2 separate regions of the Homo sapiens genome follow, and region 1 is linked to region 2. Evidence: fine-mapped expression QTL. A gene starts in region 2. The other region holds a variant in brackets. All regions are shown on one strand. Distances are between the middles of the regions.

Region 1 (2,922 bases), 69 kb after region 2:
TACTGTGTGGATTCTAACAACATTAGAATCATTAGCTGGCAAGTGTCAACTCTGAACAAGATTTGTCAGCTTATCATAATTCCAACCAGTTAATTGATATTGTTCGAATTTATCTCATTTTTTCTCAAAGGAAGTGCTCTATTAGGGATCAAAAAGTCTCACCTGGTTCTTAAAACCTAACACAATTTGACCTTGAATCCTCGACACTAAAAATTACGTTGGTTGGGTATCAGATTGAAAATATGCATGGAGGCTGGGCGTGGTGGCTCACACCTGCAATCCCAGCACTTTGGGAGGCCAAGGCAGGCAGATCACCTGAGGTCAGGAGTTCAAGACCAGCCTGGCCAACATGGCAAAACCCCGTCTCTACTAAAAATACAAAAACTAGCCGGGCATGGTGGTGTGTGCCTGTAATCCCAGCTACTCGGGAGGCTGAGGTGGGAGAATCACTTGAACCTGGGAAGCAGAGGTTGCAGTGAGCCAAGTTCGCGCCATTGCACTCCAGCCTGGGAGACAGGGCAAGGCTCTGTCTCAAAAAAAAGAAAATATAAATGGAAATACCAGAATCACCCCTTGATAGAGAATTCCATTTGGCAAAGTACAAACAACCACTTCTCAGTAGAAAGTTAAGAATAACATTTAAAAACATATTCATGTTTTAGAGAACGAATGTGCCATCGTTGTATATTAAATAAAAATAAAAGATTAACCAGCTATAAGAACACTACAATTACAACTAGAGTGGCAGTGTTTTTTAACTAATAAAAGTATACATGTTTATAAGTGCAGCATACCTGAAATCTTGATGTTTGTCAATACTTATGGTTGCTTCAAAGATAAATTTATGTGATTATTTTTGAAAGATGTGTATTAATTTGAATAATACCCAGAAAAATTATAACTTAAAAATTGCAGTTTTCAATATGAGAATCATTTATGTGTGTAAATACTCAACTAAGAAAGATCAAAAGTGTGGTATAATATTACAAGAAAAAATATTCAAAATGGAAAGTCCATTTATGAATGTATTAATATTAAAATCCAAAGTTATGTTTTTTTATAATGTCTACATTATAATGTTTACAAAGGCCATAAAATCATTTCAGAAAGTTCTCATCCTCCAGATATTGACCAATAAAACTTCATTTCCTAGAAAAAAGAAGAAATGTTATAATTTATACAAAGATGAAGTAAGATTTTGGAATTACGTATACTTACACCTTCATTTTGGATTTGATTTTTGAATGGATGCTTAAAATTCTGATATTCAACTAATGACTTAGTTTTACCATCAAAAAATTTAGATTATGATTTTTTTGCATCTCACTTTTCATAAT[A/G]AATGTAATATAGATACAATTTATTCTGTTTTTTGTTGATGTTATTATTGTTTCCACTGCTATTGAAATCGTTCTTTTAACCATGAATGTGCAGAATCAGTTGATTTTCCATGTGACAGCTTCTGCTAGGAATCTGCAGTGGAACTGGAAGTATTTGCAATGAAAGAACTTTTTTCTTTAATTAAAATAGAATTCCCATAGAATCAACAATTCCTCCTGGTCATCAAACGCGAGGTTTTTCCTGTACTTGGTAGAGCAGAGTGTGTGTGTGTTTGTGCGTTGTGTGTGTGTTGTTTGGTGAGAATGATGAGAGCTGAGCATTGTGAAAATACAGGCGGGGGTGGGGTAACAGAGCTGGGTAGGGGTCCAGGGCGCTTAGATTGCCTTATTGTCCAGGCTTAGATGCCTCTTACCCAGAGCCATCAGGTGTACCCTATATAGCTCCAGCCTTTCTGCCTACTCCTGAGAAGATAAACTGGGATCCTGCAGTCTGGATTCCTAGAAGGAGATGGAAAGCCCAGCCATATCCCCAGTTTGACTTGACCAGTAGTAAAACTAGCACTACAGTTTGATCCCTTTTTACCTCCTTGAATATCTTCAATTCATCAAGGATCTGTAAAGAAGGAGAGGTACAAGATATATGAAACCCAAATCTCAAAACAATGATTTAGTGAATTTCCCATGAACTTTAAACAGTGATTGCTTCAAAATTTCCAAGAGCCATACTCTCCCTCCAGCTGCTGTGTGTGTGTGTGTGTATAAATGCACACTATTTTAACCTAAAATGGTGCCCTGTGGCTGCCATTCTCTAACTCTTGCATACTTAAACATTTATTCTTGGTCAAATTAAAACCTCATGCATTTCCAAAGATATAAATGCCTTGCCTGGAGAAGTTAGATCTTGCAAGTCTCAGGAGGGCCGAGATGGTTTGTCTTATGCCTATAGCTGTTTATGTCCCACCAGTGGGTGTTTGTTTCATTAGGTGCCGTTTCCAGCCAAATGTTCTCATTCTTCACATCTTCAATGTTGAGTAGCAAACAGAAGAACATCCTTCTTAGCATAATATTGCTTCACTGGACTGATTGTGAACTCAAAATACCTCTTGTTTCTTGTGAAGGGTTTGCCTTTTGTAAACAATATAAGATCACTTTTGGTCAACCACCCTGTCTGAATTTATCTGGGCTGCTATAATAAAGTATCATAAACTGGGAGGCTTGTAAATAAATTTATTTCTTACAGTTTTGGAAGCTGGGAACCCCAAAATCAAGGCCAATTTGGTGTCTGGTGAGGGCCTACTTGCCGGCTCACGTGTGGTGCCTGTTTGCTGTGTCCTCACACAGTAAAAGGGATGAAGTGTCCCCTCCCGGGCCACTTTCAAAAGGGCACTAATCTCACTCATGAGGGCTCTGTGACCACCATCTAATCACCACCCAAAGCCCCCACTTTCTAACACCATCGCCTTAGGAGTTCAGACTTCAACATGAGTTTTGGAGGGATACAGACATTTAGACCATGGCATACACATTCTTAATGAACTTCTGAATGCCACCATTATTAAATTTTCTTCAACACCATTCTACACAA
Region 2 (2,922 bases):
CTGGCCAACGTGGAGAAACCCTGTCTCTACTAAAAATACAAAAATTAGCCGGGCGTGGTGGTGGGCGCCTGTAATCCCAGCTACTTGGGAGGCTGAGGCAGGAGAATCGCTTGACCCCGGGAAGCGGAGCTTGCAGTGAGCCGAGAGCGCGCCACTGCACTCCAGCCTAGGAGACGAAGCAAAAAACAAAAAACAACAACAACAAAAAACTAAAAAAGCGTTTCCTCAGTCCCTACCCCAGACCTATTGGATCACAATCAGCATTTTAACAAGACCCCCTAGGTGAGTCCTGTGTACTAGATGAGAGGATATATTTTGGATTGGTTTGAATCCCAGCTGAGCAGGTTACTACTGTGTGACCTCAAGCAAAGTGTTTAGATCATATAAGCCTGTTTCCTCGTCCACATGGTAAGGCACCTCAATGGGTTGTAGTAAGAATTAAAGAGGCTGAGGCTGTATGTAAGGCATTTTTCACAGAGCCTTCCAACAAATACCCAGTTAATAATGAAGCTCTTTTCATCGTATCATTTTGCACCATCTACAGCTGCTAACCATACTACACATCCATTCAGGATTCTGGAGCTGCTCAACAGGGAAGATTTCCAAAGCCCTCAAAGCCCTCCAAGCCCATGGGGTAGCGGGAAGGGGATGGGGACAGGAACACTGTCAGCAGTGCCTCTCCGAATACGCAGGATACTGTACATTTTGCAAAACATATTACTTATCGGATGATCTTGCTTTCAGATCTCCACTGCACGTGGCTTTATTGGAAACCTTCTGCTAGAGTCTAGACTCAGCCATGGAGTCTGGTGACCTGTGGGAGGGAGCAAGGGCCAGAATGCCTGCTAAATCGCTCTGGGTCCCCAGCCCTCTTCCTTAATCCCTTCTTAACTTTCCATCTGTCTCTGGTCTCCAGGGGTGCAGAACCACAACCCACCAGACCCCTCCTAGCTCCCGGCCCGGCGCTCAGCAGCCTGGGCTGCAACACTTTCCCCCAGGACCGGGAAGGCGGGGGAGGGGGTTTGGAGGGGGCGGAGCTCGGCCTCCTGCTGCCGCCGCTGCTGCTGCCGCCGCCGCCGCCTGCAAAGCTGTCGCCCCTCTCTCGGATGCTCAGGCTGGGCAGCGCTGGACAGATGGGTACACCCCGGGCCTGACGGATGAACAGTCGGGCAAGTGAACTCTCACCTCCAAACTGGCTCTGCGCCCGGCGGGGGCGGCGGCGGCGTCTGCAGCCCCGCGGTGGGGGCAGCCCCCTCGGTCTACGCCCGACTGCTGCGCGCCGCCTCTGCTCTTGGCATAGTAATTTCAGTTCCTGAACGCACGGAGCTCGCTCCGGGACCGGGCTGAGAAGGACCTCAGCTCGCGGGCCCGCCGGAGCCATCGGTGTGGCGCCGAGAGACGGTGCTTGGGATATGCGACGGGAAGCCCCCGCCACAGCGCAGGCAGTGGCCCCGCCGCGCCGCGGAGCCGGGCAGAGCAGGTAGGAGACGCCCCCTGCGCACCTCCGCCTGGCGGCCAGCGCGGGGGACCGGAGCCTGGTGGTGTGCTCTGTAGGGATGCGGAAGGGATTCGGTCCCACATTTTGCACAGGGATCCTTTGCCTGTTGCTCTTGTCTCTGTCCCATCCTGCGCTCTAGGAGGGGCAGTCTTTCTCGCAGGTGATGAATTTCTCTGCAAGGTCATTGCTCTCTTTGGCTCTGGCTTTGAAGGTAAATGGGAGAAGACGCCTGCTGATCGTGGGCAGGGAAATTTATAATCAATCGGGTCTGCACACTGCGAATATCCGAATATGAGGGGTGTGTGTGTGTGTGTGTGTGTGTGTGTGACATTTGTCTCATTTTCCTATGCTTATCCCCTTTAAGGTCAAAACATAGAAATATATATTACATATGGATGTATGTATGTGTGTGTATATACACACACATACATAAATGCATATGTAAATAGGTTTTCTTGAGGTAGGCAGAAAGAAGAGGAAGGGCGGGCAGGGGTTGATAAAGGGAAATCGTTGTAGAGACATGTTCACTAATAGAGGCGAACTTTGGAACCACATTAAATCAGGGTAGAGACTAGAGGTGATAAACGGTTCTTTCAAGATGGGCTTTAGAAGAGGTCTGAAGGAGCCTGTCAGCCAACACACACAGAAGATCTTCATGCTCTCCAGGCAGATGGAAACGATGTAGGCATCATTTCAGACGCAATAATGGACAGTGAAAGAGGGAAAAAAGGAGAGGTACTTAATATGCCACTGGGAAGTGAATTTTGGGTGATGGGAAGGCATCGAATCCAGACCAGGTTTCAAGGGCTTTCTGGAGGGCCATTGGGAGAAATCACCGCTTGGGGTGTAGGCAGTTCAAGGTTAAGACGATGTGAATGTCCACAAAGCAGCCGAGGAGGTGGGCAAAAGGCAAGGGCTTGGAGGGGGAGGGGAGAAACAGAGCTCTGAGCAGTCACTCAAGAAGCACCCACCTTTGAGTAAGGTGTCTTCTTCCTCTTGGTTAAAGCGGTACTTGGGTATGCTCCATCTAAATATTTTCACAACACATTTGTTTAAAGATCCATTGGACTATGTTTTTATTTTGTTTTTGCAAGGTATCTGGGTCATGGTGGGACTAGAAGAAACTGAAGTGTTTACAACACCAGCAAGATTTGGGAGAGAGGGTTGATTAAGGCTTTGCTTCATGAAATATTTACACATCTCCTGCGTGGGCTTTTGTTTGCTCTTGTTGGTGCTGCTGCATATTTTACTTTGATAATGCTTTGAGTGTACTTCGCCCGAATGTGCTTATTTTCCAGTTATAACCTATTCTTTCTTTTCCCATTGTGCTCACCATTGGCCTGCCCTGAGTAACAATTGTGGGAATAAAGGTACATGAGTCACAGCCCAAAGCAGAAAATCTCTGCTGCTATCTGCAAAAGACA

What was found. PIP is the estimated chance that this variant, and not a neighbour inherited with it, causes the effect.
Region 1: its variant is fine-mapped to the expression of GPRIN3 in whole blood (TOPMed, PIP above 0.99).

What each region holds. Positions count from the first base shown.
Region 1 is chr4:89,237,291-89,240,212 of GRCh38, reverse strand. GPRIN3 (GPRIN family member 3) reads left to right here. Exons shown (of 2, transcript NM_198281.3): 2 at 1-2,922. Among named protein-coding and RNA genes, the nearest start is that of GPRIN3, 69 kb to the left of the region's middle. The variant A/G (reference allele first, on the strand shown) is at 1,338.
Region 2 is chr4:89,306,173-89,309,094 of GRCh38, reverse strand. GPRIN3 (GPRIN family member 3) reads left to right here and starts at 1,295. Exons shown (of 2, transcript NM_198281.3): 1 at 1,295-1,480. RefSeq lists silencers at 1,216-1,285, 1,296-1,345.